Homo sapiens: one gene and its partners. The protein of the gene in region 1 purifies or fractionates together with the protein of each later gene. This does not show direct contact. Each region holds a gene or a part of one and is shown in the gene's direction. Other genes may lie near its edges. The genes, in order: MYO1C, MPRIP, SCAF8, E2F3, CORO2A, TMOD3 and AFAP1.

What was found.
Region 2: the proteins of MYO1C (region 1) and MPRIP purify together in Homo sapiens (affinity purification with mass spectrometry; one large-scale study listed by BioGRID and IntAct). This does not show direct contact.
Region 3: the proteins of MYO1C (region 1) and SCAF8 purify together in Homo sapiens (affinity purification with mass spectrometry; one large-scale study listed by BioGRID and IntAct). This does not show direct contact.
Region 4: the proteins of MYO1C (region 1) and E2F3 purify together in Homo sapiens (pull-down; one large-scale study listed by IntAct). This does not show direct contact.
Region 5: the proteins of MYO1C (region 1) and CORO2A purify together in Homo sapiens (affinity purification with mass spectrometry; one large-scale study listed by BioGRID and IntAct). This does not show direct contact.
Region 6: the proteins of MYO1C (region 1) and TMOD3 purify together in Homo sapiens (affinity purification with mass spectrometry; one large-scale study listed by BioGRID and IntAct). This does not show direct contact.
Region 7: the proteins of MYO1C (region 1) and AFAP1 purify together in Homo sapiens (affinity purification with mass spectrometry; one large-scale study listed by BioGRID and IntAct). This does not show direct contact.

What each region holds. Positions count from the first base shown.
Region 1 is NC_000017.11:1,479,187-1,482,686, reverse strand, and holds part of MYO1C (unconventional myosin-Ic), read left to right. Parts: intron 1-128; coding exon 129-209; intron 210-1,801; coding exon 1,802-1,981; intron 1,982-2,061; coding exon 2,062-2,160; intron 2,161-2,981; coding exon 2,982-3,095; intron 3,096-3,184; coding exon 3,185-3,256; intron 3,257-3,500.
Region 2 is NC_000017.11:17,167,957-17,171,456, forward strand, and holds part of MPRIP (myosin phosphatase Rho-interacting protein), read left to right. Parts: intron 1-3,500. UniProt on the Homo sapiens protein: Targets myosin phosphatase to the actin cytoskeleton. Required for the regulation of the actin cytoskeleton by RhoA and ROCK1.
Region 3 is NC_000006.12:154,799,416-154,802,915, forward strand, and holds part of SCAF8 (SR-related and CTD-associated factor 8), read left to right. Parts: intron 1-2,555; coding exon 2,556-2,732; intron 2,733-3,500. UniProt on the Homo sapiens protein: Anti-terminator protein required to prevent early mRNA termination during transcription. Together with SCAF4, acts by suppressing the use of early, alternative poly(A) sites, thereby preventing the accumulation of non-functional truncated proteins.
Region 4 is NC_000006.12:20,478,379-20,481,878, forward strand, and holds part of E2F3 (transcription factor E2F3), read left to right. Parts: intron 1-1,467; coding exon 1,468-1,579; intron 1,580-2,827; coding exon 2,828-3,047; intron 3,048-3,500.
Region 5 is NC_000009.12:98,123,557-98,126,637, reverse strand, and holds part of CORO2A (coronin-2A), read left to right. Parts: coding exon 1-89; intron 90-1,732; coding exon 1,733-1,864; 3' UTR 1,865-3,081.
Region 6 is NC_000015.10:51,892,153-51,895,652, forward strand, and holds part of TMOD3 (tropomodulin-3), read left to right. Parts: intron 1-1,662; coding exon 1,663-1,793; intron 1,794-3,500. UniProt on the Homo sapiens protein: Blocks the elongation and depolymerization of the actin filaments at the pointed end. The Tmod/TM complex contributes to the formation of the short actin protofilament, which in turn defines the geometry of the membrane skeleton.
Region 7 is NC_000004.12:7,937,062-7,941,140, reverse strand, and holds the start of AFAP1 (actin filament-associated protein 1), read left to right. Parts: upstream 1-1,279; 5' UTR 1,280-1,485; exon of another isoform or gene 1,486-2,140; intron 2,141-2,351; exon of another isoform or gene 2,352-2,488; coding exon of another isoform or gene 2,489-2,549; intron 2,550-4,079. UniProt on the Homo sapiens protein: Can cross-link actin filaments into both network and bundle structures. May modulate changes in actin filament integrity and induce lamellipodia formation.

The sequences.
Region 1 (3,500 bases):
GGGAGGGGAGGGGAGGGGCAGGGAGAGAAGCCCAGTGCGGGAGGGGAGGGGCAGCAGTAGCTACAAGGCGGGGTGGGGAGGGCAGGGGGAGAGTGCCAGGTGTCCCTCATACCCCTGTCCACTCCTAGGCCTTTGGAAATGCCAAGACCCTCCGGAACGATAACTCCAGCAGGTTCGGGAAGTACATGGATGTGCAGTTTGACTTCAAGGTACCATGGATGTGTGTGTCGTGAGGATTCCCATTCAGTAGGCTCTACACGTGTGAAGCACCTACTGGGTACCAGGGACTATTCCAGGTGCTGCAATTCCAGCAGTCAAACAAAGCAAACAAAAATCCTGCCTTCCAGGGTGATAAACAATAAACAGGGAAATTGAGGCCGTGGCAGAAAATAAAATGCAGTAAGGAGTGGGGGGCAGGTGCGGTCGTATTAGGGTAGGCCTCACTGAGAAAGTGGCATTTTAATAAAGGCTTGACAGCTGGGTAGGGTGGCACATGTCTGTTGTCCCAGCTCCTCTGGAGGCTGAGGCAGGAGGATCACTTGAGGCCAGGAGTCCAAGGTTACCCTAAGCTATGATCATGCCACTGTACTCCAGCTTGGGCTACGGAGTGAGACCCTGTCTCTAAAAAAAATAGAAAATAATGGCTTGATGGAGATAGGAGCAGGCTGTGCAGGTGCCTGTCCAGGCAGCGGGAACGGAACAGCCAGGACAAAGGCCTGAGATACGAGGGTGCTGGAAGTGTTCCAGGACAGCACGGAGGCCACAGCGGCCAGAGAAGAGAGCAGGGGCCCGCGAACAGAGAGAGGCCAAACGGTGCAGGCCCTTTTGGGTTGTTGCAAGAACTTTTTTTTTTTTTTTTTAACTCTGAGTAGAAGGGGAGTCATCGGGCTGGGTGAGGTGGCTCATGCCTGTAATCTGAGCACTTTGGGAGGTTGGGGCAGGTGGATCACGTGAGGTCGGGAGTTCAAGACCAGCCTGGCCAACATGGTGAAACCCTGCCTCTACTGAAAATACAAAAATTAGCCAGGCACGGTGGTGTGTGCCTGTTGTCCCAGCTACTCAGGAGGCTGAGGCAGGAGAATTGCTTGAACCCGGGAGTTCGAGGGTGCAGTGAACTGTGATTGCACTACTGCACTCCAGCCTGGGTGAAAGCAAGACCCTGTCTCCAAAAATAAAAAATAAAAAAATGACTTTAGCTGCTTCACTGGGAGATTGGGAGTAGACGAATAGATGGGAGGGGAACCAGGCTAAGCAGGGAAAACGGTTAGGGGGCTGATGTCATCATGTAGGTGACAGGTGACATTGGCTCAGACCAGTGTGGTGCAGTGGAAGTGGCGAGCAGTGATTGGATTCTGGATGTTTTAAAGGTTAAGGCAGCAGGATGAGCTGCCTGATTGGATGTAGGGTTTGGAGAAACACAGGCTTCCAGGAGGACTGCCAAGTCCTTGGCTTGAACAACGAGAAGGATGTAGTCACCACTGACCAAGGAGGGCAGACACTAACAGGAGCTTGTTTGAAGAGGGAGAAGGTCCGGTGTTGAGCTTCAGGCCTGTTGAATTTGCGATACCTGTCAGGCATCCAGGTGGAGCAGCCAGGTCGTTGGAGTTGAATCTCCCCATTTCCTAGATGAAGTAACTGAGTCCAGCGTGGGTGGCGTGCCTGAGCCGACGCAGCTAGTGGCAGGGCTGGAATTGGCATCCAGGTCTGGCTGCCAAAGCCCAGGAGTGCAGGGGAGAAGAGGGGCAGGTGGGCTCTTTTCCCAGTCCCCGTGACCCGGCCTCATGCCCTGCCCTGCCCACAGGGTGCCCCCGTGGGTGGCCACATCCTCAGTTACCTCCTGGAAAAGTCACGAGTGGTGCACCAGAATCATGGGGAGCGGAACTTCCACATCTTCTACCAGCTGCTGGAGGGGGGCGAGGAGGAGACTCTTCGCAGGCTGGGCTTGGAACGGAACCCCCAGAGCTACCTGTACCTGGTGAAGGTGAGTGGCTGGCAGGGAGGGCAGGTGCCACCCAGGGATCTGGTGCCAGGGCTGGCAACCCAGCTGTGCCCTTCCTCCAGGGCCAGTGTGCCAAAGTCTCCTCCATCAACGACAAGAGTGACTGGAAGGTCGTCAGGAAGGCTCTGACAGTCATTGATTTCACCGAGGATGAAGTGGAGGTGAGGCCTCTTCCGGGACCCTCGCTTTCCTCCTGTCACACCCCCAAAATCTCCTTTTTTTTTTGTTTTTTATTTTTTGAGACGGAGTTTCATTCTTGTTGCCCAGGCTGGAGTGCAGTGGTGCAATCTCAGCTCACTGCAACCTCCGCCTCCTGGGTTCAAGCAATTCTCCTGCCTCAGCCTCCCGAGTAGCTGGGATTACAGGCGCCCGCCACCACGCCCAGCTAATTTTTTGTAGTTTTAGTAGAGACGGAGTTTCACCATGTTGGCCAGCCTGGTCTCGAACTCCCGACCTCAGGTGATCCGCCTGCCTCAGCCTCTCAAAGTGCTGGGATTACAGGCGTGGGCCAGTAATCCCTTTTTTTTTTTTTTTTTTTTTTTTGAGATGGAGTCTCGCTCTTTCGCCCAGGCTGGAGTGCAGTGGTGCGATCTCAGTTCACTGCAACCTCTGCCTCCAGGTTAAAGTGATTCTCATGCCTCAGCCTCCTGAGTAGTTGGGATTACAGACACCTGCCACCACACCTGGCTAATTTTTGTATTTTTAATAATGATGGGGTTTTGCCATGTTGGCTGGGCTGGTCTCGAACTCCTGACCTCAGATGATCCTCCCGCCTCAGCCTCCCAAAGTGCTGGGATTACAGGCGTCAGCCACCGTGCCCATCCCACCCGCAGAATCACCTTCCACCTTTAACACCCATTCCCACTTCCAGCCCCTTCTCTCCGACACTTCACCACCCACCCCTGCATGGCCATCTGCTAGTTGCCCTCTTGGGGCTCTCTGGCCCCTCTCACCCCCTCCTGCCCCCGGCCTGCTCCCCCAGGACCTGCTGAGCATCGTGGCCAGCGTCCTTCATTTGGGCAACATCCACTTTGCTGCCAACGAGGAGAGCAATGCCCAGGTCACCACCGAGAACCAGCTCAAGTATCTGACCAGGGTGAGTGGGGCGGGCAGAGGGCGACGGGAGGACGGCGGGGGCGGGGGCTGGGGGTGCACCCTCACCGTGTCCTCGCCTGCCCTTGGCAGCTCCTCAGCGTGGAAGGCTCGACGCTGCGAGAAGCCCTGACACACAGGAAGATCATCGCCAAGGGGGAGGAGGTGAGGCCGGGCCCTTGCCCTCGGGTGTGGAGGGGCAGCTGTTCCAAGGCAGCCCCTACTCCCATCACTCCCCTTCGCCTGGTTCCCTCAGCAATGCTGGAGGGATGGAAGGAAGGCTGCTCAGAGAAGCAGAGTGAGAGCCGAGCGCCGTGGCTCACGCCTGTAACCCCAGCACTTGGGGAGGCTGAGGTGGGCAGGTCACCTGAGGTCAGGAGTTCGAGACCATCTTGGCCAACATGGTGAA
Region 2 (3,500 bases), about 16 Mb from region 1:
ATAATGGGGTGGGTGTGGGGACGTCTGGCTCAGCTACCGTGCAGGCAGAATTGAGGGGATATGCTGCTGTCCCTCTACTTGCTAGCCATGGTGTGGTCTCAGCAGGGCCTGGGCCGCAGGCTTAGCCTCTTGTTCGGCATCCCCCAGTGTCCTCCACCAGGAGGAGAACTAGCAGGAGGGCCGCCAGGGTCCCTGGTGGGAGAGGAGCACGTAGTCTTCCCAGCACTTCCCTGCCTGCCTAATGCGGCCTCTCCGTGTTCCTGAGAGCAGCCCCCAATCCCCTTGCCAGCCTTGCCTCCTTCCTGCCCCTGCCCCGGGAACCCCGTCTGGCCCAGTCCCAGCCCAAATCTGAGGCAGCTGCCTGAGGACAGCCTTGTACTCACAGCAACACCCCGGAGAGCCAGGGCCCAGTTGGAGGGCAGTCTCCTCCTGATTGCCCTAGGAGAGCACAGTCGGGCGGAGGGTCCCTCTCTGGAACTGGCATTTGATGTGTGCTCTGGTGAGAAGAACTTTCCCACGGAGCACAGCCTCCAGCCACTCCTGTCCCCTTCCCCAGGACCTTTACAAGTAGATTTTCCCCAGAACTGTCCTGCATCCCCGCCCCTGAGGTCCTGGAGCACAAAGGCGAAATGCCAGGCCCTGGAGGTGGTGGTGGGCTGAGTGGAGGCCCAGCTGTCTGGCCCCACCCTTTGTAGCTGCAGGCCACACCCACCATGTGTGGCTGTCAAGCATCATCCCTTAGACTCAAAAGTTTACCATGATACCTGTGCCCTTATGTTCCTTCCACTCAGGAAGCTGCCCCAGTAAATGACTAGGATGACTAGGCCCCTCAAAAGCCATGTTCAGGTGGTGCCTTCCACGCTCATGTGGCAGAGCCAGGCGCGCACACAGCCAGCACCATTGTGCTGCAAGCTCCTGACTCCCAGGTGGCTGCCACTGCTCCTGCCTACACATCCTCACAGCCACTGTCTAGCAGGACACCTGTTTTTCCCAGCCCGTTACTCCTGTAGCTCTGAATGGAAACAGCAGCTCACATGTCACCTCTGTGTGACGGACTCGGCCCCACCCAGACACACAGGTGTGGTTGTCAGCGAGCACCTCAGGAGAACTGAGAAGCTCTTTTTCACCATTCTTTCCCCAAATCAGTCAAAACCTTTTAAAAACCATTATGAGTTGTGAGAAGGTTTCAACAGCTATGTTTTCAAAGTGTGTGTATATGATGGCACTGTGGTCAGTTCACCAAGAGCAGCACTGAGATGGGTGGATCCAGGTGCACCTTGAAAAGTTAATTGCACAAACCTTTGCTTTGACCCCAAATACGCTTGCTAGTGCCCTTCCCTGCAGCTTCCCAGACAATCAGCAGGGTCCATGGGGGCAGGGCCTGGGCACAGCAATGCCCTGCTTCCTGTCTGCATCCATAAGAGGCCCCTCCACACCGAGGCTGCTTTAGGTTAGCCAACCAGGTGCAGGGGAGGCCCCATGCAGGTGCCATTATACCAACAGTGAGCAAGAAATCAGAAAAAAGAGGACTGCCTTATGTTGAGAACTGACCAGAGATTGTGCTGGGCCAGTGTCACTAGGAGGGAGAAACAGATGATGCAGGTCGGGATGAGGCCCCTCCCAGGGGCTTGGACACTGTCCACTCCCTGCTGCCTTAGCTGCCGTTGCATAGTGTCCCCTCCTGTGCCTGGGAGCTTCTAGCCCAGGTGTGGTGTTCTCACCCACCCCTGCAGACTTACAGAACTTGTAAATAGACAGCACCTTGAGATTTCATCACTTTATGCAGATTTCCACTTGGGTCGTTGGGGACAGGGTCTTGGCCTAACAGCCGTCCTCTGACATCCACAGGCTCCCACCACACCACGATTGCAGTCATCGGGGAACTTCTTTTGGTGTCAGGAATGATTGGCTTAAATTAACATTTGTTTGCAAGATCAATTATTTTTTAGCATATAGTTTCTCTCCAAAGAAGCAACTAGGTCTTTAAAGATGTCCCAGTGCTTCTGTTAGATTTTTGACTCTTACCTGCATAATATTCCAAAGCACTCAGATCAAAATAAGACTTTTCCCAGCAAGTAGACTCAAAGAAAAAAAAAAAAGACTTAAAAGATCTATTAATACTAGTTGTGCTCGTTTTAGCAGCATATATACTAAAATTGGAATGATACAGAGAAGATTAGTATGGCCCCTTTACAAGGATGACACACAAATTCATGAAGTATTCCATATATATATATATTTTTTTTTTTTTTAATTAAAAAAGACCTATTAGTTAAATGTGTTAACTGAGAAGCCACATACAAACAGAAGCGAGTGGGAGGAAGAAAGAAGAGCTCAACCTTGGGGCCTGAGGACCAGGAGCTCCAGAGCTCCGAGCTCCTGCAGCCGTCCTGAGGTGTGAGGGTGGCAGAAAGAGACAGATGCTTCCAGGTGGAGCCGCTGGGAGAGGGGATGGGACGCCTAGTTAATAGTGGCAATAGCTGAGACATTCACCCAGAGCAGCACATAGGTTGCAGTCAAGTCCAGACTGACCACGAGTTTGGAAATACTGCCTGAGGCTCTCAGAGTTGGCCATCACCAAAAGTGGGCCCAGAGAAAAATGCCCAGGCATGCTGATAGGATTTCTTGGTATCCTTTCTTGAATCCACATGCAAGAAGATTAACCAAGTGGTGCAGGCTATCAGCCCAGAGTGGGGAAACCCCCACACTTGAATTTGGAATGGAATGTGGCCACGTTCTTCCAGTTTTTAAAACTCAGCGAGAGGCCCAGTCCCTTCTCTGAAGCAGACCACTTGAAGGATTTAGACAGAAAGTGTGTGCCTCCGTGCTCAAAATAGCTGCACACCCACCCTTCCCGGCAGCTGTGCAGCACGCTCACCTGCTTTGTTAGTGAGCACAGCTCTGATAACCAGGCCTGGGCTTCCTGGTGTGGCTTGCTCCCATCCTGGGGCATGCCTATGTCGCTCTAGGGAGGCACAGGAGAGTTTGGAAAGCAGGTCTCCTGTCATGTACTTGTTAGAGTTAGCAGAGGTGCTAAGTCATTGGTGCCCTTCTTTAAGAAAAGAGTAAGAAAGAAGACACAGGCTAGAAGGAAGGGGAGCCTGTAGCCTGATCTTACTCCCTCAGTCAACACCTGAGCATTAAGTGACCAGCTGGAGGTTGTCAGCTGGCTAGTGGCAGAGTCCCAACCCCCAGCTCCCAGAAGTGGACTCTATGTACCCCCAACCCACTGTGGGTTGAGAGGCTCCCAGCCCGGTGCCCGCCAGGCCACTCCCTATATGTGGAATGGCCTTGGTTCCCTCCAGCAGACAAGTCCCTCATCCCTGTTTTACGGGCCTTTCACCGTGTCCCTCCAGACCAGACACAGCCAGCCTCTGCCCACGTGCTCTCTCTTCCTTCCTGTGGGTCCCACCTGGCAGCAACGCAGGAAGGTCCAGGGTTGGCTGGTTTCCATTTCATAGCAGCCTGTCCCCACCTACCATACCAACTTCTCCCAGGAA
Region 3 (3,500 bases), on another chromosome or scaffold:
AATCCCAAGTTTCAGCAGTCACTTCATTGGTCCTTGTATGTTCTCAGTTTGACCTATTGTTCCCTTCCCAACATTTTCTATCACCAGTTCATAGACTTCTCTAACTAATGATAAGACTTGCTTATGTTGCCCACCCCCAACCCTGGTTTTATATTATCCTTTGCTTTGCTTTCTCACCTCTTTCTCCTGTAACTTGTTCCATCCTTTTTGTTGTTTCTTAAATAAACTACCTATAATCCTGCCCCAAGATCTCTGCTTTTGAAGTTTTTTATACTGAAAACCCACTTCCCTCATATATTCATATGGTTTCATCTCTTGTCTTTGTTTAAATGTCACTTTAATAAGGCCTTCAGTGACTGCTATTTATTTATTTATTTATTTATTTAGAGACAGGGTCTTGCTCTGTCACCCAGGCTGGAGTGTAATTGGCGCAATCTCGGCTCATTGCAACCTTGGCCTCCCGGGTTCAAGCAATTCTCTTGCCTCAGCCTCCTGAGTAGCTGGGATTACAGGCTTCTGCTACCACACCCAGCTAATTTTTGTATTTTTTAGTAGAGACAAGGTTTCACCTTGTTGGCCAGGCTGGTCTCAAACTCCTGACTTTAAGTGATCCGCCCGCCTCGGCCTTCCAAAGTACTGGGATTATAGACATGAGCCACCGCACCTGGCCGTGACTGCTATTTAAAACTGTAAACTCTTACCTGTCATTGTTTACACTCCCGTTCTCTCTCGCCTCTGCTTACTTCCTTCCTTAGCACTTACTACCTTCTGTTATGTTATATAATTACTTGGTTTTTTTTCTACCTCTTCCCACTGGAATGTATGCTAAACTAGGGCAAGAATTTTTTGTGGTTGTTGACAGCTGCCTGTCCAATGTCTAGGTTGTAGATGGTGTTCAATATGTTTTTGTGGAATGAATGAATGATGTACAAAAGCATTACAGTGTTGGAGATACAAAGGATATTGTAGAGTTGAGTTGTTTGAAGGAAAAGATAGTCTGTGTAAGCTATTAATGACAAAGTTAAATGGCAGACTTAAGTGTGACCTGGGCTGTGAAAACTATAAATGGTGGGCTCAGAAATAAAAGGTTTCATTTGCTAAGCAATGGGGAATCACCAGGGACTTTTTAATGTTGAAGTCACATGATCTTAACAGTACTTTACATGGATTAGAGAGAGGAGAAGTCTAGAGACAGAATATCTTTCTTTTGGTAGTAGTGGTTTTGGAAAGGAGGGTAATGATTATGAAAAATAGTAAGGTTGTATACTTTCTGAAAATACAATAGAAAACATGGGGCCATTCTAGACTTAAAAATATTTTAAAAAACCGATGTGTACTCTTAGGTTGAATCTATTTTCTACATTTTTGAGACAGTTGGGAAACTGAATATTAGCTGTATATTAGGTGAAATTATAGAATTAGTAATTTTATTTTGTGGTAATATTTTGGAAACAATTCATAAAGCAAGTGTTCTTATTTTAAAAGATGCCTATTAAAATAAATATTTTTGACAGAAGAAACTTTGAAAGGGATAGTACAAACAGAGTCAGTAAGACAGTAATTGATAGACTGCGAAGTCAGAGTAGAGGAAGAAAATTGGATGCTCCAGTGGTTTTTTACCTGGGTGACCAAAAGAATAACAGTGCCATGGGAAAAATGGAGATGTCAAAAGGAGCAGTTAAAAAGTGTAAAGGGGAAATACGGTGTTTCTATCATTTTAATAGTTTTATAGAAAATGTTTAGTTGATAGTGAAGTGACTCTAGTTTGTTTCCTAGTGTTACTGTTTTAAGTAGGCATGAAATTACTTTACTGTCATCTTACATAGTTTTTGTGTCCTTTCATCCTAGAAGTTGAACTTCAAGAGTACAGTTGTCTTGGTTATCAGTAGCTTTGCTGTCTTTATTTTTCTCTTTTAAACTAATAATTTTTGGATTTAACTCAGGCTTATAACCAGATTGATTATCATTTATTTCTGGAATGTATATAGGGTTTTCTTATTTATAGAATCTCTTAAAGATCTCACTGTTGTGTCTGTTTTTTAACAGGGGTGGGTACATGGTGGGAACAAGAGTTGCCTTCAACTCTAGATGACACTATTATTAATAACTAGTTGCCAGACTCTACTCTGAGAAACAGATTTCTTAATGACTCTCCAACTTTCAGGAAGTACGTGCTCAGATGGTAATTCTGAATAACAGCAAAAGCTGCTGCTATTTTCAGTACTCGTCCTTTTACTGAGTTTAAAGAGTTAATTGAACAAGGTAGAGAAATTTAGTGAAAAAGGTGTCAGCTTGTGATGAGCGCTTTATCTGGTTGTCACAGATCACTTTATTTTGTTTAAAGTTCGCTGACTTTCCAGAAGTAAGACAAACTTATTAAGGACTGTGTTATATAAGGTACACAGAAAAACTTCAAAAAATTAACTTATTAATAGTGTGTATTTTTTTCAAAGAGAGTGTGGAATGATTAATTTTACTGACTAAAAGTTTTAGGTGGCCACTCTTACAGAAAAAACCCAACACCTGTTTTGTAATATATATTTTTTTCTCTCCAGCTTCAACAATTAATACAAACCTTACAGATACAACAACAGAAGCCCCAGCCTTCCATTCTGCAGGCCCTAGATGCTGGTCTTGTTGTTCAGTTGCAAGCTCTTACGGCACAACTTACAGCTGCAGCTGCAGCTGCCAACACTCTTACTCCCTTAGAACAGGGAGTCTCCTTTAACAAGGTAGAAATTAAAATATCGGATCAAGTCTATATGAATTATTAAATATTATATACTATCATGGATTTTAATTCTATAAATAAATTTTATTGTAGACTTTCAGTATCTCCTGTACACTGTATAAGACAGTCTGAATTTTACAAAAGGTTCAAACTTCTGAAAAAAATTAAGTAATTAAAAAAATTTTTCCTAGGCCAGGCACAGTGGCTCACACCTATAATCCCCAGCACTTTGGGGGAGCGCAAGGCAGGCAGATCACTTAAGGCCAGGAGTTTGAGACCAGCCTGGCAAACATGGTGAAACCCCATCTCTATTAAAAATACAAAAATTAGCCAGATGATGCGTGCCTGTAATCCCAGCTACTGGGGAGGCTGAGGAAGGAGAATTGCTTGTACCTGGGAGGTAGAGGTTGCAGTGAGCCAAGATTGAGCAACTGTTCTCCAGCCTGGGTGACAGAGAAAGACTCTTGACTCAAAAAAAAAAAATTTTTTTTGAAACATTTTTGAAACATTTAAAATATTTTCATTTGACTAAAAATAACTAGTCAGTAAAATCTTGTATTCACCACTGAGGCAAGTGATTACTTTCTGAGCTTGTCTGATTTCTTTCATGGGTGCCACATTTTACTGTGATGCTCTGGGTTCTGTAATTTGGACCTGCAAAAATTAAAATTCTTTAATCAATATGTAAAATGTTTAAAGGAAACTTCTCTACAACTAGTCACTATACTGTAACTATAATAAGTTGATGCCTAAATTATTAATAATTAAA
Region 4 (3,500 bases), on another chromosome or scaffold:
GGATGAGCTAGTAACCAGTGGCTATCGTAGTAGACGGTGCAGGGTTAGCTGGTAACTTTCCATAGAGGGGCTGAATATCTAGCTTCCGCTGATAAGTTATTACTTACGTTTTCACATCACGGGGAGTTGTTTTGAAATTGCAACTCTCGGCTGGGTACAGTGGCTCACGCCTGTAATCCCATCACTTTGGGAGGCCAAGGTGGGCAGATCACCAAAGATCAGGACTTCGAGACCAGCCTGGCCAACATGGCGAAACCCCGTCTCTACTAAAAATACAAAAATTAGCTGGGAGTGGTGGCGTGCACCTGCAGTCCCAGCTACTTGGGGAGGGCTGAGGCAGGAGAATCACTTGAACTCAGAGGCAGAGGTTGCAGTGAGCCAAGATCGCGCCACTCCACTCCAGCCTGGGCGACAGAGCAAGACTCTGTCTTAAAAAAAAGAAACTGCAAATCTCCTCATTAGAAGAATCTGCCTGAAAATGAGCCTAAATACATATTTTTGTGCTGAGTGTCCAGTTGGTGCCATTTATTTTCTAAAACACCTGTCATACCCATACAATTAGTACTTAACAACTGCTTAACCATCTATCTTTTCTCTTGGACTCGAAGCCCCTTATCTATCTTGCTTACTAAGCCCAATGCCTAGGTACCTAGAAGACGCTATGTGGATATTTTAAAATTTAATTGGAGTTAAATTAAAAACTTAGATAAGGGCTTCTCATTTGCTAGGCTTGATAAGAAAATGGAGAAAGTAATAGTGGTTGAAGCCCAAGATTGCATGTTTGCAGTATTTGTTTTCCCGATGAAGGGCCGTTTGTAGTCTGTGACTAGTTGTGTTACGATCCAATCACCCTTTCTCTCATTGAATATACAGTATATAGAGAGAGTGATTGAAAATCTACAGAAACCCAGGCTCTGTGCCAAGCACTGGGTATACAAAGATAAATGGGAAACAGTCCCTGCCTTAAAGGAAATGAGAAACAGATAAGTCTTACAGTAATACCGAATAAGTGTCATGATACAAATAAACACAGAGTGTTTGGGGAGCACAAGGAAGGGGGTCCAACCCAGGTCGGAGAATGGGAGATGGGCAGGAAAGACTCACTGTGGAAAGGGAATTTAAGCCCCACGGCGCCTGTGATATTCTTAGCATCCAACCCCATGCCAGGCACATGATGTGTTGAATCAATGAACAAAGTGACTCCTGAACCTAATGCTGAAGGATCGCTGTGTTTGTCCATCTGGGTGTGGACGGATGATCACGGCAGGTGAAGAGAGTGTGCATGACAACCCAGCCTACAACGCTAGAATCCTGGCTCTAGGGAATGACAAGATGCTGAGTGGGGTGGAGCAGAGGGGTGAGAGCTGGCATGAGCCTGCAGCATTTGGCAGGCCAGCCCACAAACTGCCTCCCTTCTTGTTCTTGTCCATATGACCGGTGACGAGAGATCGCACTTTCTTATTACAGGCAAAGCGAAGGCTGGAGCTAGGAGAAAGCGGTCATCAGTACCTCTCAGATGGTTTAAAAACCCCCAAGGGCAAAGGAAGAGCTGCACTACGAAGTCCAGATAGTCCAAAAAGTAAGGATCTTTTCATCTCTTTCCTTATTCTCCTTGGTATGGCATTTCCAAGTTTCAAAGCTTATGGCCGGAAGGATGCCAAGGTGTGAATAATTCTGGCATGTTTTGTTCTTTTTCATTTCTTTCTGTGCTTATCCAAAAAAATAAATACAATGTCAGCAGACAACCAGTGAAAGGCTACAGAGTCACACTGGTACCATAAGGGAAGACTTCTTTTAACTGTATGTAGTTTCATTTTTCAACTCGGAATACGAACTTTTGGCACCATTCTATATCAAATTTAATTTTAACTTCCCTTAATGGACATTGCTTCAGAGTCTGAGGCAAACTGGATGTCCACGAACTATGCCAGAGTCACCAGTGTCTGTGCCGACCTCAATCTCCAGCTCAGCATATGATAGCGTAAGAATTGATTGAGCCCGATAAATTGCAGGCTGTTTCTCTTTCTATCAAATACTATTACCGTTTCTTGTGGGAGAGAGAGAAACGTAGGTTAGAAATAGCCAACTAGTCCCATTATGTATGTGTTTGCATTTAACATAAGGGCTAAATTAGACTTTGTTCTCTCTCTTCCTTTAGTTCATGCATTAGGCAATCCACAAATTGTGTGACACTAAATTAAAACCTTGACCTGTGCACCTATGGGGGAACAAGTACAATATTAAGTAAGGAAATTTCCTTTAAGAGAGATGGGGAGATTTGGCAGAAGACTTTTCCAGGTAATTATTTATCAAAATGAAGCATTGTTTGGAAAATTGGTGAACAGGTGATACACGCACACACAGATACCAGAGCCTGAAAGGCCATTTGAGATGGGTCTGTTTAAGACCTTGTCCTGCAGTGCTAGTGAGACTCATAGCCTGGCTCCATCACCGTAGGCCTCGTGTGTGCTGGTCCCCTGAGGCCACAGCACTCTTTCATTCATTTGACAGATATTTTTTAGCGCCCGCTATATGTAAATTCTTCATTGGAGCCAGGGAATGGTGTAAGTCAAGGTAGAAACTCTTGAGAAATTCAAGGTGAAATGCTTTAATCAAACCCTGGAATTTTTACCTTCCCTTCCTGCTCTAATAAAAAACTTTCATAGCTTTCTATGACTTGCCAACACCAACAGCAACGACAGCCTTGCTTCAGATACTAATACTTTGGCTGCAGTGGGAAAGAGAGCTTGCTTGACTGCAAAGACACCCTTCATTTCTTTACCTTTCCCCCTATCCCCCACCCGCTCGGTTTTTGTTTTTCTTTAAGCTCCAAAATCTCCCTCAGAAAAAACGCGGTATGATACGTCTCTTGGTCTGCTCACCAAGAAGTTCATTCAGCTCCTGAGCCAGTCACCCGATGGGGTATTGGATTTGAACAAGGCAGCAGAAGTGCTAAAAGTGCAAAAGAGAAGGATTTATGATATCACCAACGTTCTGGAAGGCATCCACCTCATTAAGAAGAAGTCTAAAAACAACGTCCAATGGATGTGAGTAGGAGTCCTCCCCATGCCCCGGCTCTGAGGGGGTCGTTTCAAACTGCCTGGTTTCTTAGTTCCTCACTTTCACATCCACGCCCACACGTTCTTTTCTTTTCTCTCCTACTGTTTTCTTCTCTCTCATTCTCTCTTCCCTCCTCAGCTTCTAAGCCAGAAGTTTGAAGTCTCTTTACAAAGAGACTTTGTTTAGATACTGTCAGAGATAAAAGGATTTATATTTGATGAGCATCCAGCAACGGCATCCTTAAAGAGGTCCCTGCAGTTGGAAAGTGGACTGCTGTTCATCTGTTACATAGATGTCTGTGTGCACCCACGTGTGTATCTGACAGATGTGTACACGTCTTCAGCTTGTTTCTAATAAGAATCTGGAAATGATGGCTTATGGGTTATCTATGTGTATACGTACAACTGCATAGTTACAGAATATCTTTATCCATGGTTCTA
Region 5 (3,081 bases), on another chromosome or scaffold:
CAGCAGAACACAGGCTGGAGGAGAAGAAAACCTGGCTGACAAATGGCTTTGACGTTTTCGAATGCCCCCCACCAAAGACAGAGAATGAGGTGTGAAGGAGGACGGGGTGGGCCTTTCACATGGGGCAGCTGGGGTGGAGGGGAACAGATCCAGGCTGAGAAGAAGGGAGAAAATGAGGCATGAGAAGAATAACCAGCTGTGTGGCCTGGCCTAGTCACTTGACTCATTTTGTTAATTCATTCAACAAACAGGCAGTGAGCTCCATCTTATGCCAAAATGATGGGCATACATAAAGATGGTGGGAGGCTGGGCACAGTGGCTCACTCTTGTAATCCCAGCACTTTGGGAGGCCAAGGCGGGCAGATCATGAGGTCAGGAGTTCAAGACCAGCATGGCCAACATAGTGAAACCCCATCTCTACTAAAAATACAAAAATTAGCCGGGTGTGGTGGCGTACACCTGTAGTCCCAGCTACTTGAGAGGTTGAGGCAGGAGAATGGCTTGAAATTGGGAGGTGGAGGTTGCAGTGAGCCAAGATCACACCACTGCACTCCAGCCTGGGCAACAGAGCAAGACTCCATCTTAAAAAAAAAAAAAAAAAAAGATGGTGGGGACCAGGTGACCAGGTGCAGTGGCTCACACCTGTAATCCCAGCACTTTGGTAGGCCAAGGCGGGTGGATCTCTTGAGGCCAGAAGTTTGAGACCAGCCTGGCCAACATGGCGAAACCCCGTCTCTACTAAAAATACAAAAATTAGCTGGGTATGGTGGTGCGTGCCTGTAGTCCCAGCTACTCTGGAGGCTGAGGCAGGAGAATTGCTTGAACCCAGGAGGCAGAGGCTGCAGTGAGCCAGGATCACACCACTGCGCTCCAGCCTGGGCAACAGAGTGAGACTCTGTCTCAAAAAAAAAAAAAAAAAAAAAAAAAATGGTGGGAAACCATCTGTAAAATGGAGAGGGTTTGACCTAGTGGGTATCAAAGTCTTTCCAGTTCTGACATTATAGGACTTTCTGTGCTTTCAAAGTCCACATTTGTTTAGTGCCTACTGTGTGGCAGATCCTGGGGTAGGCACTTTGATACAGCACGTGATTGAATTCTCTCAACAGCCCTGGAAGTCAGTCTGTAGTGGCTAAGAACACAGAGGCTGGCATCTCACAGATGGATTCTGATCCTGGCTCTGCTGAGTACTAATTTAGGGTCTTAGACCCAGAGACTGAATGTCTCTAAGCTTCCGTTTCCACGGTGGTACGGTGGGGACACTAGCACTGCCACCCTTATAGGGGTGTCACAACGTTCCAGTGGGATAACGAGGCCCTTAGGGCATCACTCAATATCTAACACCCATTCTGCACAGAGGGCAGTTTTCTGACCCCATTTTCCAGAGGAAGGAATGGAAGCTCAGAGTGGGTAAGTAACTTGCCCAAGGTCACACAGTTCAGTGGTGGCGAAAACACCAATCCCCAGACTTCAGAGCCAGGCATCCTTTCCTCTATTTCATGGAGGATCTATGGAAGCAAAATACATCTGAAACATTCCAGTCTTCTTGAATTTCATTTATTGGGTGAAGTAAACAAGGTGTTTGTAAAAGATCTATGCAGTGACAGCCCCATCAGGCCTCAGCCATGTTAATGTGACCGCCTCCACCTTTCTGAGTCAAAGAGGGATAGTGGTTTAGCTTTCAGCTGGTGTCCTGACACCATGGTGATCCTGCCTTCCGATCTTTCTTCCCCAGTTGCTGCAGATGTTCTACCGGCAACAGGAGGAGATCCGAAGGCTCCGGGAGCTGTTGACCCAGCGAGAGGTCCAGGCCAAACAGTTGGAACTGGAGATCAAAAACTTGCGGATGGGCTCAGAGCAGCTCTGAGCAGAGACCTCTGCCCTCCTCACCCTCAGGGACACCACTCGGCTCCATGGGGAGGTTTAGAACCAAACCACAAGTCCCCTCAAGGACAACCACTATTTCTATATTTTTTACCAGAAAACAAAACTCTCCATCGCTGAAAGAGATTCCAGTGGGACATGGTGCCGTTTTTCTGTTTGCCTTCTTGCAACAACAGTTTCTGAATTGACTTTGTTTTCAGATGATGCCTTCTGTTGAATTCTGTTATTAAGGGCCCATGATGAGCTGTAACTTCTCAAGAGGAAAGAACACAGTAGAAAACTAGAGCTGGAAGGATCTAGGTTGACCTGTCTGTGATTTTCAAACTGTGGTCCAGAGAATAGGGGAAGACTGGGCCAGACGCAGTGGCTCATGCCTGTAATCCCAGCACTCTGGGAGGCTGAGGTGGGCGGATTGCTTGAGGTCGGGAGTTTGAAACCAGTCTCACCAGGCGCAGTGGCTCACGCCTGTAATTCCAGCATGTTGGGAGGCCGAGGCTGGTGGATCACGAGGTCAGCAGTTCGAGACCAGCCTGACCAACATGGTGAAACCCCATCTCTACTAAAAATACAAAAAAATTAGCTGGGCGTGGTGGCAGGCGCCTGTAATTCCAGCGACTTGGGAGGCTGAGGCAGGAGAATTGCTTGAAACCGGAAGGCGGGGGTTGCAGTGAGCTGAGATTGTGCCACTGCACTCTAACCTGGGCAATAAGAGCAAAAGTCTGTCTCAAAAAAAAAAAAAAAAGAAAGAAACCAGCCTGGCCAACATGGTGAAACCCCGTCTCTACTAAAAATACAAAAATTAGGCAGGGCGTGGTGGTTCACGCCTATAATCCCAGAACTTTGGGAGGCCAAGCTGGGCGGATCTTCTGAGGTCAGGAGTTCAAGACCAGCCTGGCCAACATGGTGAAACCCCGTCTCCACTAAAAATAAAAAATTAACCAGGCATGGTGGTGCATGCCTGTAATCCCAGCTATTTGGGAGGCTGAGGCAGGAGAATCGCTTGAGCCTGGGAGGCGGAGGTTGCAGTGAACCAAGATCATGCCACTTCACTCCAGCCTGGGTGACAGAGTGAGACTCCGTCTCAAAAAAAAAAAGTTGGCCAGCCGTGGTGGTGAGCGTCTGTAGTCCCTGCTATTCGGGAGGCTGAGATAGGAGAATTGCTTGAACCTGGGAGGTGGAGGTTGCTATGAGCCACGATTG
Region 6 (3,500 bases), on another chromosome or scaffold:
GAGTTTTGCTGCTAAAATCTAGAGGAAGGCAGGAAGGAAAAAAGCCAGATAGTAGTCCATTTTGAACCCGGTCAGTCTTTCCATGTCAATTGCTCTTACTCTTTCGTGCTCATTCATTAGTTTGTGAGCCTTTTGTGGTCTTTGACTTGAATGACCACAAAAAAGTAATGTTTTCCCCAGAAAATGTATCCATAAAAGTTTACCTATTATAGGTGTTCGTAGACCTCCACACACATGCATCAGAGCACAGTGATCTCTTTAAAGGGCTCAAGGATTTCAGGTCCTCTGTCGTTCACATCTGAAGCATCATATTCCTGTGTGGGTAGCTGAGGTAAAGATTAGGGAGTGAGAGTGAGGGAGGGCAGTAAATTTTGGAGCCTCTGTCTCAGTAGCTCTTCTGTGTACCTTTACCTCCTCTCCCTCTCTGCTCCTTATTCCTACCCTCTTTCCTATTCCTTCTTTCTCGCAGGAAGTTCTCCCCACTTTCCCACTGCAGAGTACTCCTCGTGGGAGGAAGAGGTAATGTGCCCTCCCATCACCTTATTCTTCTCATTTAGGCTATATTTCTTTAAGTCTGTGATTCTTACTGCCTTTATGCCAATTATCAGTCAAATTTCAGAGAAATGATGAGATGCTAGATTTTATCATACTATTATTTTATCTTAAATTTTGCCAAAAACAAATGGCATCATCAACTTGTGCTATCAAATATATTTGAGTGGTAAAAATATCTTGTAATATACTAAGACAATGAAAATATTCATTTTTGAAGACTGATACATGGCAAACAAATTAAATGTTGAATATGTTTGGTATTTATATTCAGTAAAATTTTATTTGGGTGCTTTAAATATGTGTCAAGGCCAAGCGCAGTGGCTCCTGCCTGTAATCCCAGCACTTTGGGAGGCCAAGGCAGGCAGAGCACTTGAGGCCAGGAGTTCAAGACCAACCTGGCCAACATGACGAAACCCATCTCTACTAAAAATACAAAAATTAGCCAGGCATGGTGACACACGCCTGTATTCCCAGCTACTTGGGAGGCTGAGGCAGGAGAGTTGCTTGAACGTGGGAGGAGGAGGTCGCAGTGAGCCAAGATCTTGCTACTGCACTCCAGCCTGGGTGGTAGAGTAAGACTCCATCTCAAAAAAAAAAAAAAAAAAAAAAAAAAAAATTAAATAAATAAATATGTGTCAACACATAAAGGATCTTTTCGGAATTGTGGGGATGGAACTTTTAAATCTGTCCCCTTGAATAAATATGCGTGTATGAGAGAGAGAGAAAGAGATGTTACCAAGTCAATTATCTGCATGCACTGTAATAGTATCAACTCCAGGCTGAGCACAGTGGCTCCTGCCTGTAATCCCAGCACTTTGGGAGGCTGAGGCGGGTTGATACGAGGTCAGGAGATAGAGACCATCCTGGCTAACATGGTGAAACCCCGTCTCTACTAAAAATACAAAAAATTAGCTGGGCGTGGTGGCAGGCACCTGTAGTCCCAGCTACTCAGGAGGCTGAGGCAGGAGAATGGCTTGAACCCGGGAGGCGGAGCTTGCAGTGAGCCGAGATCGTGCCACTGCACTCCGGCCTGGGCGAAAGTGCGAGACTCCGTCTCAAAAAAAAAAAAATGGTATCAAATCCTGCTCTTTTCATTTATCACTGCAGATGTGGTCAAAGGTGAAAAGATTCTTCCGGTATTTGATGAGCCACCAAATCCAACCAATGTAGAAGAGAGTTTGAAGAGAACTAAAGAAAACGATGCTCATCTTGTTGAAGTTAATTTGAATAATATAAAGGTAAGTGTGCTAATCAGAGTGGTTTTGTATTGCTTTGAGTTAGTTGAACCTAGGATGAGAGCTGGGCAGTTGATAAAATAGTCTAATTCTTTCTACTTTAACGTAAAGTTTTTGCTCTTACCAGTATGCTAACATAGGTTTCTTCATATTTTAGATATTGAAGTATTATGGTATAGTATTTTCTAACTTGCTTTTTGAAGAATTTATCATCTAAAAATGTAAACCCTACAAACTGTCAGAATAAATCTCAGGTTTTCTAAATACTGCCCACTTCTAAGAACATTTAGCCTCTTGGGTCTTGCTTTTTTAAAATTCGGTTCCTTAGCCAGGTATGGTGGTGCATGCCTGTAATCCCAGCTACTTGGGAGACTGAGGCTGGAGGATGGCTTGAGCCCAAAAGTTTGAGACCAGCCTGGGCAACATAGTGAGACCTGCCACTGTCCCATCTCAAAAAATAAAATAAAACCTGTTTTTTTGAGGTAAAATTTAAATATGGTAAAATTCTCCCTTTTAGTGTCCAGTTCTATGAATTTTGACAGGTGCATACAATTTTGTACAACCACCATTACACTCAAGATATAGAATATATCTGTCACCGCAAAAGTTCTCTCATACCCCTTTGTAGTCATTCTCTGACCCCCAGCTCTAGCCCCTGACAACCACTGACCTATTTTCTTTCCCTATTATTTTGCCTTCTCCAGAATGTCATATAAATTGAATCCTATAGTATGTAGCCTTTTGGGTCTGGCTTCTTAGCATAATACATTTGAGATTGATTCATGGTGAGTGTGTCAGATACGCTGCAGTTTGTTTATCTGTTCATCAGTTGGAAGACATATGGGTTCCTTCCAGTTTGGGATGTTTATTAATACAGCCACTATATACTTTTCACACACAGGTTTTTGTGTGAACATGTTTTAAATTCTCTTGAGTAAACACCTAGGAATAGGCTTTCTGGGATCTTATTTTGAGTTTTAAACAATGCAACTCTTCCTTGGAGTAAGGAAAGAAGAAATTAGGAGGACATGGGGTAATTAATTACCAAAAAGTAAACTCAAATTATCTAGATATTAGCCATTGTGTAATGGCTTCATTATAAATTCCTCATTTTAAAACTTGATTTTTTTGAAGTCGAGGACAAGTGGAGGAGAGCATCTGGAAATCTTGAGCCTAGGGAAGGAAGCTTCTGTGCTCCTCTAGGGAGTGATCCTTCCTGTGAGTAGAGGAAGGAAAGCCTCAGAGAAAGCTTATATTCATAGTTGATTACTAACTTTTTTTTTTTTTTTTTTGAGACAGAGTCTTGCTCTGTTGCCCAGGCTGGAGTGCAGTGGTGCGATCTTGGCTCACTGCAACCTCTGCCCTGCCCCAGGTTCAAGCAATTCTTGTGTCTCAGCCTCCTGAATACCTGGGATTACAGGCATCCACCACCACACCTGGCTAATTTTTGTATTTTTAGTAGAGATGGGGTTTCACCATGTTGGCCAGGCTGGTTTTGAACTCCTGACCTCAAGTGATTCGCCCACCTTGGCCTCCCAAACTGCTGGGATTACAGGTGTGAGCCACTGCGCCCGGCCTATTTTTATTTTTTTTAATTTGGTCCCTGTGTATCCCTTTCTCTAAATAAACAGTAATCATCTGAAAATAACCAGGCTAGGGGGAATTGAAGTCTCAAGATACTACTGAGAGAAACCAGCATCTTCAGTATTT
Region 7 (4,079 bases), on another chromosome or scaffold:
TAGCAGTGCCCACTGTGAATGGAAGGGCATTTGGCCTGAGCCCAGACATGTACAAGTTGGGCAGAGAAGGGGGTGGGTCCCTGGGACCCACAGAGGAGCAGCTATGGAGGTACAGAAAAACCAAGTGTGTGGGGGTCACATGATGCAGGAAGCTCAAATAAGATGAGGAAAGAGGTTTTAAAGATGATCAGGGTTGGGGACAGTAGTTCATGCCTGTAATCCCAACACTTTGAGAGGCTGAGATGAGACGATAGCTTGAGGCCAGGAGTTTGAGACCAGCCTGGGCAACATAGGGAGACCCCATTTCTAGAAATAAATAAATACATTGGTACTTGGCATTTCAGGTGGGGAACAGCAAACACGTGAAAGCTCTGAGGCAGGAAAGCGAAGTGATTAGTGCTTGCTTGCTCCTGGTTCCTTTATCAGGCCTTAAAGAGATGCAGAGACATCTCAGGTACTCCTTGGCCGAGCTCCTTCAGGGAGGGCCTAAGTTCGCTTCTACTTCACATCTTTAAAAAAAAATTTTTTTTTTGGAGACAGAGTCTCACTCTGTCGCCCAGGCTGGAGTGCACGCAGTGGCACGATCTCGGCTCACTGCAACCTCCACCTCCTGGGTTCAAGCGATTCTCCTGCCTCAGCCTCCCCAGTAGCTGGGACTACAGGTACGCGCCACCACAATCGGCAAAGTTTTTGTATTTTTAGTAGAGACGGGGTTTCATCTTGTTGGCCAGGCTGGTTTCGAACTCCTGACCTCAAGTGATCCACCTGCCTCGGCCTCCCAAAGTGCTGGGATTACAGGTGTGAGCCACCGTGCCCGGCCCTACTTCACTCCTAACGCCCGCCATACGTGCTTCCAAATGTTTGCTGAATGACTACAAGATGAACGAGTGAATGGGATTACGTTTCTTCGAGCGGCAGGCAATCCTATTCCTTGGACCTCAGTTTCCCTTTCTGTAAAGCAAGCCTTTCTCTCGCTCTCTGCCCTAAAAGCCTGAGCTCTGGGTTTGAGATGAGCGCGTCCTGTAGAGCCGACTCCAGGTAGACGTTGAGCTGGGTATTCTAGGAGGCGATGATCGGGCCGGCTCTTTGAGGCGGGTCCTCCCGCGGGACCCCGCAAGCCCAGTCCCAGCACCGCCCCGCCCAACCTCCCTTTGTTCCCTCAGGCCCCGCCCACTCCGCGCAGCTCGCTTCCCATTGGCCGGGGGGCGGGCCCTGGGCGCCCGGCTCCGCTGGGGGCGGGACGGCGGGCGGCGGGCGGGGCCGTGTGCGCCTGCGTGGTGTCTGTCCCGGCCGCAGCCCCACGCCGGCTGCAGCTCCGCGAGCCGAGCCGGATCTCGAGCGGGGTACACGGGCTGAGGCGGCGGCGGCGGCCCCGCCCCGGGGCTCCATTGTTAAGGCGGCTGCGGCTCTGTCGGCTGTTCAGCTGCGCTCCAGTCGGCCCAGGCGCCGCGGCGAGGAGCGAGCGCTGCGAGGTGGCGGCCTGAGGTGAGACGGCGCGACTGGCGGCAGGGTCTCCGGACCCGGCGGGGGTCTCTGCCCCGGGCGTGGAAGCTCCGAGCGGGGCTCCGCAGGGTCCGGGGTCCGTGCGCCTGGGCTTTGTCTCGGCCTCGGGTGGTACCGGGGGCTCCGCGCCTGCTGCGACGCCGCGTGGGCCCGCGCGGGGGTCCCGGTCGTCCTGCGGGTGGGGGCCGGTCCCCACTGCTCCCCAGCTCCCCGCGTCTGCCCGGAGGGGACTGCGTGGACCCGGGCGCTGGCTCCTGCCCGGTGCCCCCGCGGCGTGGCTGGTCCCCGTGTGCGTCAGAGGGGGCCCTGCGAAGACCCACTCGTGGGGCGGGGTCCGGGTCACCAAGAGTGGGAGGCTCCGCCGCCCTCCCCCGTAGCGAGACTGCTTCGTCCGACTTACCGAGGGGACTGCGCGGACCCTCGGACGAGGGGGTCCGTGACTCTGGATGGGGGCTCTTTCTTGGCCCCGCATGACGGCTTCCTGAGTGTTTTGTCACCTATAGGTTGTTGCGTGGACCCACGCGCGTGGGTCCCGGCCGCCCTGCGAGTGGGGCTCTGCGCCGCCCCGTGGCTCGTCTGGGTCGACCCCGCCTGGGACGCGAGTGTAATGGGGGTCCGTGCGCGGGGGGCGCGGTTGGTGGGGGCGCACTGCCCCGCCCCGTGATTTATCCTCTCACCTGCCCGGCGGGTGGAAGCGAGAGGCGCGGGCCCGGAGCTGTCGCGCAGCGGCCGCACCGTCCTCTCCCCTGGCCGGCGGGCCCCGGGGGGCGCGGGGCTGTCACCGCGCGTCCCACCGCCGCGCTTCCTGCTCTGGCCCCGGGCTGGGCTCTGATTGGAGGGAGCAGGGCCCTACTGCCCGGAGCTTCTTGATTTCTTCCGTTAGTAATGGGAAGAAAAAAAAAATCTGGAAAGCCAGATTGAACTTTGTAGCTCTCAGCGCCTGGAGAGTGGAAGAAACTCTCCCAAGAATTTGGCGGGCTGGAAAATGCGTTTCAAGCAGGAGCATCCACACCCACGGAATGAGGCCAAGGCAGTTACAGTTAGAGGTCAGATTTATGAGGGGAGAGCGAGGGTGAGGTCCGTGGGTGGGGAGACTCCGACCTCAGCTTGATGGGAAGACCTGATGCTGCCCCTCAGACGCTGTATTTCTCAGCCACCAAAGAAAGTGGAATCACTCCTTAGTGAATGCTTTCATCAAACTTTTGAAAAACCTGTTATGTCCCAGGAAGCAAAATCGAACTGGACAGTTTTCCCCTTTTAGGAGAGTTAAAGATCCCGGAGACAAACAGCAGAAGGCTCAAGGAGTCCAAATACCCAACCTGAAGTTCTTTCTGAACAAGAGATGGTGTTTAAGTAACAGGCATACAAGACAAAACTGAGCTAATTACCGCAGCTGTGGCTCCTAGCCCTCTAGCGTGTCATGCGGGCCCTTTTGCTTTCTCTGCCCTCCGCTGCCCCAGACCCCCACTCTACGCCGCACCTCCAGTCATCAGCTCATGCCGACCCATTGCTATGGACTCTGTTGAGGTGGCTCCCTTCTCTCTGAAGCTTTGCTTGTTCTCCTGAAGTCCTGGTCTTTAAGAGCTTATGATCTGCCAGGACAGATTGGCTTTGGGTAATACATGGTTAACTGTAGCACAGCTTGAAAAATGCTCTGATAGAGGTGGGCAGGCGCAGTTTGTGCATGCGGGTAAATGCGAGCTCCTTTTTCAATACCATGAATCCAAGTATTCATGCTATTTTAAATCTGCAATTCTTTGACTCTCCAGAGGGTTTTTAGATTAATCTTTTTCTATTACTTCCTAATGTTTGTTGCATAGTGCAGAGTACTTGATTAAAACTTAGCAGGTCGGCCGGGCGCGGTGGCTCACGCCTGTAATCCCAGAACTTTGGGAGGTCGAGGCAGGCGGATCATTTGAGGTCAGGAGTTCGAGACCAGCCTGGCCAACATGGTGAAACCCCGTCTCTACTAAAAATACAAAAATTAGCCGGGCATGGTGGTGGGTGCCTGTAATCGCAGCTACTCATGAGGCTGAGGCAGGAGAATAGCTTGAACCCAGGAGGCGGAGGTTGCAGTGAGTTGAAATAACTCCACTGCACTCCAGCCTGGGCGATAGAGTAAGACTTCGTCTCAAAATAAAAACAGAAACAATGTACTGGGTCTACGTCCGGCTCTGGAATTTTCCTGGAAGGCCTTCTCTTCTGGGCTTCATTTTTCTCACCTTTGAGGATCGTAAACTACATAATTTCTAAGAATCTTTTCAGCCCTACACCTTTAATTCTTTCAAGCAAATATAGTAGAGAAAAATTCTCTTACCAGCAATGGTGTAAATAACGGAAGCCTTTGAAAATGTGGATTCTAAAGTGGAAGTTTCTTTTCTTCTTCCCCTTTTTTTCCTTTTAAACAAGTTGAGTTACATGTGTATATACTTTATCTCAGAGTTAAGGACAAGTATCTATGATGAAACCTTAAGCAACTTTTTGGCAATATCTTTCATATTCTTCATAATTGTTTTATGTGCAACATCTTCACTATATCCAATTGGTTTGTTTTTTTCTCATTAATGGAGTTGTTG